2 separate regions of the Homo sapiens genome follow, and region 1 is linked to region 2. The links come from fine-mapping of genetic effects on gene expression. A gene starts in region 2. The other region holds a variant in brackets. All regions are shown on one strand. Distances are from middle to middle.

Region 1 (5,377 bases), 37 kb after region 2:
TTCATCTGTATTAAAAATTAAACAACAACAACAAAAAATTAGCCAGGTATGGTGGTGCCAGTAGTCCCAGCTACTTGGGAGGCTGAGATGGGAGGATTGCTTGAGCCCAGGTGATGGAGGCCGCAGTGAGATGTGATCATGCCATGGCACTCCAGTCTGGGCAACAGAGCAGGAACCTGTCTCAAAAAAAAAAATAAAAAAATAAAATAAATCTGACAGAGGTGGCTATGGAGACTGTCCAGGAGAGAGAATGGTGGGCCCAGGTGACAGGGATAGCAGTGGAGATGGTGAGATGTGGCAGAGGTGGGTTGGCCGTTAAAGGTGGAGCTGATGGAGCTTGGGGATGATTGACTGTGGGTGGGAGGGCGGAAAGGAATGGAGGAAGGTTCCTTTGTTTGGGGCCTGAGTGACCACCAATGGGACAGTTATTGAGATGATGCTATGGCCTGAATGTTGGTGTCCCCCCAAAATTCAAGTTGAAATCGAATCCTCAATGTGATGAGATTAAGAGGTAAGGCCTTTAGGAAGTGATTAGGTCATGAAGGTGGAGCCCTCATGAGTGGTATTAGTGCCTGCGATAGTTTGTAAGTTTCCCCCCTCTAAATCTCAAGTTGAAAGTTAATCCCTAGTGTGGCAGTGTTGGAGGTGGGGTATCGTTGGAGGTGTTTGGGTCATGGAGGCAGGTCGCTCATCAATAGATTAATGTCCTCCCTCAGGAGTCAGTGAGCTCTCACTCTATTAGTTTCCCCAGTGCTGGTTGTTAAAAAGAGCCTGGCATCTCTCCCCTCTCTCTCTCGCTTCTGCCCTCAACACGTGATATCTGCACGTGCCAGCTCTCCTTCGTCTTCCCCCATGACTGGAAGCGACATGAGGCTGTCACCAGATGCAGATGCCCAATCTTGAACTTTCCAGCCACCCAGAATAGTGAGCCACATAAAGATTTTTTTTTTTTAAATAGAGACAAGGTCTTGCCCCGTTACCCGGGTTGGAGTGCAGTGGCTCAATCATAACTCACTGCAGCCTTGAACTCCACCCACCTCAGCCTCTCAAGTGGCCGGGACTACAAGCACACTTTACAACACACAGCTAATTTTTTAAAATTTTAGTAGAGATGGGGTAGATGGGGTCTCACTATCTTGCCTAGGCTGGTCTTGAACTCCTGGCCTCAAACAATCCTGCTGTTTTGGCCTCCTAAAGGATTAGGGTTACAGGATAAGCCTCCATGCCTGGCCACTTTTTAAAATAAAATAAATTACTCAACCTCAGATGTTCCTTTTAGCAACACAAAATGGACTAAGATAGTGACCTTATTAAAAAAAAAAAAAAGAGAGAGAGAGAGAAAGAAAGAAACAAAAAAAAGCCCAAGGAGCTTCTCGTCCTCTCCTTCCACTGTGTAAGGCGGTAGCGATAAGGCACTGTCTATAAACTGGAAAGCAGGACCTCATTAGACACCGAATCTGCCAGAAACTTGATCTTGGATTTCCAGCCTCTAGAACTGTGAGAAGTAAAGTTTTGTTGTTCAAAAGCCCCCAGTTATGGTGTTTTGTTATAGCAGCCTGAGCTGACTACGAGGAAGACAGATGAGGAAAGCATAGGGTAGGGATAATTGTAAAAACCCAGTTGCACAGATTATCTCTTTGCAACCAGGGAGAATCTCAGTATGAATAATCCTATTTTAGTCTAAATGGAGAGGAGGGAGGAGTTCACTTGTATGTCTCAGCTTCATCTGTTCTTTCACTGTGCCCTTTCCCACAGGAGATAGAAAAATGGTTAATGGTGGCTCACGTCTGTAATCCCAGCACTTTGGGAGGCTGAGGTGGGCGGATCACTTGAGGTCAGGAGTTCAAGACCAGCCTGGCCAACATGGCAAAACCTCGTCTCTACTAAAAATACAAAAATTAGCCAGGCGTGGCAGTGTGTGTCTGTAATCCCAGCTACTTGGAGTTGAGGCACAAGAATTACTTGAACCTGGGAGGCAGAGGCTGCAGTGAGCCAGTGAGCAGAGATCAAGCCACTGCACTCCAGCCTGGGTAACAGAGCCAGACCCTGTCTCAAAAAAAAAAAGAAATTTCTCTGTCTGCCAGGAGGTGGAGGAAACCACAGCCTCCTTTCTTCCCAGGTGGTCATACGTATGAATTCACTCACACACACACACTGCTGCTGCCCAAAAACCTCAGCATCACAACCATTCAGCTTCTTTTGACTCAGTGACGTAGGCAGAATCCCAAAATAACCCCCCCGTGACCCACACTTCTGCAGAATCCCCTTCCGTGGAGTGCAGGCAGAACCTGGTTGCAATTTCACTCCTTTCACTAAGTTATGTTATACGGTAAACATGAAGGGACTTTGCAGATGTAATTAAGATCTCTAATCAGTTGACTTAAAGCTCACTTGGGCCTGGCCTAATCAGATAGGCCTTTAAAAAAGGGTCTAAAGTTCACTTAAAAAAAATATGCTAATCATGTTCTCCTATTGGCCTTAAAGACATAAATGGCCATGTTGTAGAGAAACCTGTGCCAGAGAAAAGGCTTCTAGAGACTGAAGACTGTAGGCTTTAGTCTTCCAACTGGAAAGAACTGAATTCTGCCAACAACCAGTGAGCTTGGAAGAGAATCCTGAGCTTCAGCTGAGATCACAGCTTTGGTTGCCCTCTGATTACAGCCTAGTAAGACCTCTGACCCAGAAAAACTGTCAGATAATAAATTTATATTGTTTTGAGTCCCTACATTTGCAAGAATTTGCTATGCAGGAATTGAAAACTAGTGTAATAAAATAATAATAATGGCTTTTATTGAGCACTTATATTGTGCTAAACCTTTTCAATTGCTTTACCTCATTATTCCTCACAACCCCATGAGTTTGGCACTATTATTATCCCAATGTAACACATGCAAAATTGAGGCTTAGGGAGAAGTCACAGAACTGATGGTGGGATACAGCAGGCACTCTGAAGACAGGGAGTTTGAGCATTACACAATGCTGTCTTCAATTAGAAGCTGTCCCTCATCAGAAGCTGTGCACCTGAGACTCCTCTTCATAATTATGAAGGCTGCTCTCCCCTCCCCTTAATG[C/G]CTTAGACATGCACTCTGGCCCCAGGCCCCAAGTAGTGCCTCTGATGGGCCATTGCATCATTTCCTCTCCCCACCTTCTGGAAGCCCCACAGTCAGCTTGGACAGCATGACCTCTGAAAGCTAAGATGTCCCCAGGGTCCACTGGGCATATTATAACCTAGCTCACACGTCGGGTGTCTGATTTACTTTAGTTTTCCCAGGATCATCCCAGTTGTAAAACTGAAAGCCCAAAGAGAGTTTGGTGAATGGGTACAAATACACAGTTCAATAGGAGTAAGTTCCAATGTCTGACAGCCGGGTTGGGTGACTGTAGCTAACAAAATGGACTGTCTATTTCAAAATAGCTGGAACTGAGAACTTGAAATGTTCTCAACACATAGAAATGATAATCAAGGTGATGAAGACCCTAAATGCCCTGACTTCATCATTACACAATCCACACACATAATAAAGTATCACATGCACCCCACAAATACCTACAAATATGTGTATCAATAAAAATAATTTTTAAAAAACCGAAAGGACCACATCCCAGGAAAACTCCTCAATGCCAGGCCAATCAGGATTATTGATCACCTGACCACCTTCCAAACCAAGCCCAGGCATGAGAAGGCCTGGGGGCCACTTCCATCCTGCAATGTCCCATGCCTTCCCTATCAGCAAGAAGAAAAGAAAAGCCCAGCTTGGATGGTAGAGCACTGCTCTTTAGAGAGCACTCAGAGCAGAAGCAACTATCCTGAAGCAGTCAATGCCAAGGAGCTCCTGCTGGATGAGGTCTGGCAGTGCAAGCCAGGAGGGGCTTCAGCCTGGACCATCAGACAGGCCTGGAAAGCAAGGCTCATTCAGGCCCTCTCCCTTGAATTGAGAGATCCTCTTGCCTGAGCATCATACATGAGGCACATGGATTCAGGCCTCAGACCACGCCAGACTCCACATTCCATCATCTCTGCTGCCCAAGCAGGCAACTGGAGGAGAGCTGGGGGAGGCTTCACATCCTTCCTAGGATTGTGACTGTCATGATACTCATCTGGGGAATAACACAGACCCACCTATTACTGTCCAGCTCGATTGAGAGTTCAATCCTGATGAATGGCTCCCCTATAAGAGCTGGCTTCTCTGTTGGGGATCCTGGAATCTTGACTACACCCCGCCATCTTCCAAGCTGTGCTGTTTCTGCCAAGTGGCACCTGTCATGACAGTGGCTGGATCACTGTCACTATGAACTGAGTGACCAGTGGGACATTTACTGAGATGGTGCTATGGTCTGAGTGTTTGCACTCTCCCCAAATTCACATGTTGAAATCAAATCCCCAGTGTGATGGCATTAGGTGGTAGGGCCTTTGGGAAGAGGCCCATATTGTGGGACAAATCTGTCCACACTGTGGGAAATGGCTCAACACACATACTTCATTAAATACAGCCAGTTAGCGATTCATAAACTCATTCATTCATTTATTCATTGGTTTGCCAATATTTGGGGGCACGTATGACGGTCCTCGCATTATCTTAGGTTCCCACAGGGAATTACAGAACATTTTAAACTGTATAACATGGAAGTGCTGGGCACGATGCTAGTATATGAAGATACCAACCTAATTCACATGGCTGTGTGAAGAGGGATGGATGTCATAAAAGATCTTCAAGTAATTTTTCCAGAAGCCAGATGTGTATTTTTTTTAATTTGAGATGGAGTCTCACTCTGTTGCCCAAGCTGGAGTGCAGTGGCATGATCTTGGCTCACTGCAACCTCTACCTCCCGGGTTCAAGCAATTCTCCTGCCTCAACCTCCCAAGTAGCTGGGATTATAAGCATCCACCAGCATACCTGGCTAATTTTTGTATTTTTAGTACAGACAGGCTTTCACCATATTGGCCAGGCTGGTCTTAATTCCTGACCTCAAGTGATCCACCTGCCTCGGCCTCCCAAAGTGCTGGGATTACAGGTATGAGCCACCACACCTGGCCAGGATGTGTATTTTTAATATTATCATTTAGTTTGAGGAAAACAAACTAGTCGTTTGTGGGTATAGAGATAAATCCCCCAAAAGCCATTAACAAAACCCCTCAACTATCAGCTTAAAACATGTCTCTGCATTTTATTTTAAGAAAACACAAACCTGGTCACAAAACATCTTCAGAGAACAGGATAAGTGAAGAAACAAACAAAATGCATGGGAATAGCAAATTTGGGGCCACGGTCATGTTCAAGGGGCGGAGCTGACATGACATCATTTTGTTCCCGGAAAAGCAAGGTTAACTCAAGCTGTGAAGCCCAGATGGCCAATAGATTTACAGCCATCTAAAGAA
Region 2 (5,377 bases):
TAGCAAAAGTTAAAAATTTGAGATCGTTAAAGAAAAGCCTCCATTTAAGGCCTTTGAGTATTTGGGGATCCTATTTGATGGAAGGCAAATTGTAAGTGAAATTACATTGTGCTTCCAATTTGCCACTACCAAATTTTAAAACAATATCCACCTGTGCCCTCATCCTCTCCCACCCACATGGGCTCTCCCTCACCCACTGTGCTTCTTCAACCCTTCCCTGTGTTTAGAACTGGACTCTCTCTTCTTTCTGCCTGTAGGAATATTTTTCTAGACCTGATCTTTAGTATTTCTGAATGTGAGTGCATATGGCTTTACACAAAGAATATGTAGTAGAAAAGCTTCGTGTTGATTACATTTGTATTAATCAGGTGCTTTGAAACCCACTAGAAGGGTATCCTCTTATAGTGCTCCTCACATTGATGCCATGGTGTGAGTCCCTGGATCTGGCTGATTTGAAGCAGGAGGTACCTATGCAGGACTGGGTGCTCCCCAGCCTTTCATGCACCCTCCAGCTTTCCAGACAGCTTGGCGGGATGACAGTGTGCCCTCAACCTTCTCCCACACATCCAACGCTTCCAAGGAGAACAAGGGCATCATTGATTTCAGGCGCTGGTAGGAATGTGCAGGGGCGGGCAGGCTTCCAGCACTCAAGCTTCCCTTGAAGATAGAAAATGCAAGGCTACCAGGAGCACTGAGAGGCCCCAGGCTGGGCCCAGCCAGGAATCCACCGGGAAATGCTCTTGCCTGGCTTCCGGAGCCTCAGGGCTGGAGCGGACACAGGGCTCCTGTCTTGGTGCCTTCAGTGGCTGGGCTGGCCTGGGAGTCTGGGGCAGAAGTTTATTTAAAGAACCTACTCTGAGTTCTGTGGGTGGCGCAGATCCAAAAATTTCATATATATTCAATGTCAGACTAAGCATTTTTCTGTGTGGCAGCAAAAATCTTTTACATAATTAGCTCATTTAAGCCTCACACATGTTTATGAGGTAGGATCACTATCATTTTACACTCAGTTGAGGAAACTGAGTCAAAGAGAAGAATGAAACCGACCTGAAATCACACAGCCAGTAACAAGGGGGGCTGGGAATGAACGCAGAGCCCTCCCACCCCAAGGTCCAAGTTCATGGCCGCTAGCAAGCATACAGCCAGCATAGAAGGAGATGAAGAGCACAGACCTTGTACCTTGCTTCCTGGCTCAGATCCCAGCTCTGCCACTTTTCAGCTGCGTGACTTTAGCAGGCTGCTAAACCTTTCTGTGCATCAGTTTTTTTGAGAGTAAAATGAGATAATAATAGGAGCTAGCACATGAGGCTGTATGTGGATTAAATCAATTAATATAAGTGAGTGCTGAAAACAGCCCCTGGTGTGTGTGTGTGTGTGTGTGTGTGTGTGTGTGTGTGTGTGTGTGTGTGTGCTGTGTGTCTGCTGTCGTACATCCTAAATACGACTTCTCATTCCTGCACAATCTTGTTTTGTTAGCTCCTTCTCCACCTGTCAGTGAAGAACATCTAACACCTGAAACCCTTGCCAATTATTTTGGAAAGAGACTTTCTGGAGGAGGTCAGCCAATGCCACTTTCCAGCTGTTGTATCTTCTTTCCATCCAGCTGGACATTGCTAGATGATATCTGCTGCTTGCAAAGGTGCTGGGAGGCCTTGCTTCCAGGGCTTGGTGGGCACCATGTTACCCAGAGGAGACGGTGCCCAGCCAGCCTCTGCCACATGGGTGACTGGGCACCACCCCTGCTGCTGATGCCACTGGCACTCCCCAGGCAGAGGCAGCTCTGTTCTCTGAAGCCCTCATTGTGCCAGAGCCATATGGGGCCACCGCCGGCCACCTGCCTGCAGGGCCTGACATAGCACTTGAGGGAATTGGCTTTTGGTTTTTCCCACAGAATCCATGAACTCATGGGAGGCTGCGCTGTGAGTCAGAAATGAGAATTAACCCTCCTCTCCATTGCCGGAAGCCCTGTTATTATCCCCCAGCCCCATCTTCCTCATTCCCCGACTTCGCCTCCTCCCCACCTCCTTCAGTCAGAAGTCCTCAACCCGACTCCCTGTGAAGGCCCGTGGGATGGCCTTGGGGGACCTGCACTCTAACACTGGACATGTGCAAATCCTGGGAAGATGCTTACAGTTATCAGCATCCTCTCAAAAGAGGTTCATCACCTGAAAAAGTCAAGGACACTGGCTTCTATAGGATGAGCCAACCAGTTAGGTTGCATCCTCCGGGAAAGGCTCCCAGATAGAGTTATGTGTGCAGAGGGGCTATAGCTGAGTAACTCCTGTGGAGGGGCCAGGGGAGAAGTAAGCCAGCCCCACAGAGAGCTCTGGAGCACAGACCACCCAGGAGAGGAATCCCGTGGTGGGCAGAAATGCCAGGCCTTTGGGCCACTGCCTTGCTCTTATGTGGGCCTGGGCCAGCCCAAGGAGGGCACAGTCCTTTTTGAAAGCTGAAGCTTAGTCTGACGAGCTGTGAGTGGACAGCTGTCAGTAGCCACGCTCCTTGTAGCTGGGCCTGGAATCCTTCCTGGAAGGGGAGTGCGGTGCCTGCTGCATGGCCCTGGGCAGCTGCTGTGCACAGCTGCTGGCGGACCCTCACCAAGGTCCATCAGACCTGCCAAGGCAAACCTGAATCCTATATGTGACTCCATCTAAGCCAAGCTGGGACTCTTCCACTCTTAACTTGGAAAATGTGCATTCCCAGCTGCTAGGTCCTGAACTTGACCTGGGGAAGAGAACGACAAGGCCATGCTTGGGCAGGAGAAGCTAGGTGTAGGCAAGGGAATCTTTACCTTATGAATGGGTTGTATACATGTTGCTTGTTGTTTAGAGAGTGGAATACATTTTGTCCTGGAAATCCTACTATAAATGGGGGGATGCGTACCTGGGCCTTCTTGCAAAAGCCTGTTAAATTCCTAATGATGTTGAAATGGTGGGAAGGGTCATCCAGGGAGGACCTCCACGCCCGCCCATCTCCTCTGGGTTGCCCGGGCAATCCTGCAGGAGCCGAGGCTGGACGCAGCTGACCCCAACAGACAGGAGAAACAAGCCAGCACCACCGGAGAGAACCAGGCTGAAAGGGTGACCCAGGGCTTCCGTGGCCTAGAATGAGAGAGACATCGCATGGCGCAAGGTTCCAAGTAGGGTTCGCGGCGGGGAGGGCCCCTGCCGCAAAGGGACTCAGTGTTGTGCGAGGGAGGTGAAGTCGCTTCTTGATCAGCCGTATTTCTTGCCTACACTTGACACCGTCACCAGCCCAGGCGCCTTTCCGGTCACCCTCACGGAAAGGCTCATCCACGCTGGAAGGAGGGAACCTCCTCGTTAACCTCTAGCATGCCGGTGCCTGCCACCCCAGGGCGCGGGAGCCCGCAGGAGCAGGCGTGTGGACGTCCTGAGAGCTGCCACTAGATGGCGCGTCTGCCCTGCCTACTCAGGAGCCCCGCTCAGGGCACCGGGTGCGGGAGCCCGGCTAATTGCCCTCTAATGAGAAGGCTGCTCCCAAAGTGCCCTCCTCGCAGGGAAAGCCCCAGGCTCCTATCAAAGGGAATGGCTTATTTATCCTCTAACGTGAAGAAACTTCCACACAGCATCAATTAAACACATTAAATGTGACCAGAGTGAGAAAACATCTAAAGGATAGAATATTGAATTGTTGCCACTGACAAATATCAAACCACCCATTCTGGTCTCGGTGGCGTGTACAGTTGACCTTGAACAACACAGGTTTGAACTGTGTGTGTCCAGTTAGAGGTGGACCTTCTTCTGCCTCTGCCACCCCTGAGAAGCGGGACCAACCCCTCCTCTTCCTCCTCCTCCTCAGCCTACTCAGAAGACCACAAGGCTGAAGGCCTTCATGGCGATCCACTTCCACTTAATGAGTAGTCGATATACTTTCTCTTCCTTATGATTTTTTAAATAACAATTTCTTTTCTTTAGCTTACTTTATTGTAAGAATATAGTATATAATACATTAACATACAAAATATGTGTGAATCGACTATTTATGTTATCAATAAGGCTTCCAGTCAACAGTAGGCTATTAGTAGTTCAGTTTGGGGGAGTCAAAAGTTGTATATAGATTTTAAACTGTGTGGGGATTGGCACCCCTAAAGCCTTCATTACTCAAGAGTCAACTGTAGGTGGGCCCTGGGAAGGTTCTCAATTTTTTTTTTTTTTTGAGACAGAGTCTGTTTCTGTCACACAGGCTGGAGTGCGGTGGTATGATTTCAGTTCACTGCAACTTCCGCTTCCAGGATTCAAGCAATTCTCCTGCCTCAGCCTCCGAGAAGCTGTGACTACAGGTGCGTGCCACCATGCCCGGATAATTTTTGTATTTTTAGTGGAGACGGGGTTTCGCCATGTTGGCCAGGCTCGTCTCAAACTCCTGACCTCAAGTGATTCACCAGCCTTGGCCTCCCAAAGTGCTGGAATTAAAGGTGTGAGCCACTGTGCCTGGACGGTTCTCAAATTTTCTGAGATCAGATGGAGTCTGCCCCTCCACCTGGCAGGCTGAAGGCTGGGGCTTGCAGAGATGTGGTGTCTGTTACCCCAGACACTGCAGGTGACCTTGCCTCTTACTAACTTTTCTTATCAGTACCATTTGGACCCTCACACTCATGAGGATGTGGGTGATAATGTGGAGGTTAAATAATATGGTCACTGATGATATTTTCTATACTGTCTGTTTGCAGGGCAGAGTCTTACAGATCTGGACCACAGCAGACCTGAATCAAATAAGAATATGCCCAGATATGGGGTATTCGGGAGCAGATTATGAAACAAGGAAACTGAAGTCCTAAGCAGATCCACAGTTCCAAATTCTGAACCGCTTGAGGCCACATCAGATACAGGATGCTATTATGCTATTAGGGCTGTGGCTTAGTACATTATACAGATGGTGGGGAAAGGCCTGCAGGAGAAAGGCCTACCATTCCTGGATTCCAAAAATAGTGGTCTCCTAAGCAATCGATCTGCTTTTATGTTTAATATTCATCTGTTTCCCTTTCCCAGTTAACTCCTAGAGCCAAACTCACGGCCCACAGGAAGGAACCATATCAACCTGCACGGTGTGCTTTTAATTTCCCTCACCTTGTTCCAGCCTCTATTTTATGTTGCCACTCTTTTCTTTCCTTTCTTTTTTGCTCAGGCTTTTAGTACATATTTAACTTTTATTTTATGTCTCCTCCTCTTCAAACCACCTTAAGTCCTTTTTGGAATAGAGCAGAACACAAATAAAATAGGTGTCAGATACATTCTCTCTGTGACCTTGCATTGGGTCAAAGGACTCATGAATGTGTGTTACCTGTAATCTTTTGTGGAAAAGAGGATTTTAAAATTCTCTGCCAGCCTTCCCAAGTGGTGACATTTTCCTATACTAC

What was found. PIP is the estimated chance that this variant, and not a neighbour inherited with it, causes the effect.
Region 1: its variant is fine-mapped to the expression of LINC00398 in whole blood (INTERVAL, PIP 0.92).

The regions. Positions count from the first base shown.
Region 1 is chr13:30,764,191-30,769,567 of GRCh38, reverse strand. ALOX5AP (arachidonate 5-lipoxygenase activating protein) reads right to left here. Exons shown (of 5, transcript NM_001629.4): 5 at 5,142-5,377. Among named protein-coding and RNA genes, the nearest start is that of ALOX5AP, 31 kb to the right of the region's middle. The variant C/G (reference allele first, on the strand shown) is at 3,072.
Region 2 is chr13:30,801,099-30,806,475 of GRCh38, reverse strand. It overlaps LINC00398 (long intergenic non-protein coding RNA 398), which reads right to left and starts at 3,270. Exons shown (of 2, transcript NR_047012.1): 1 at 2,884-3,270. RefSeq lists an enhancer at 717-1,217 and a silencer at 3,376-3,495.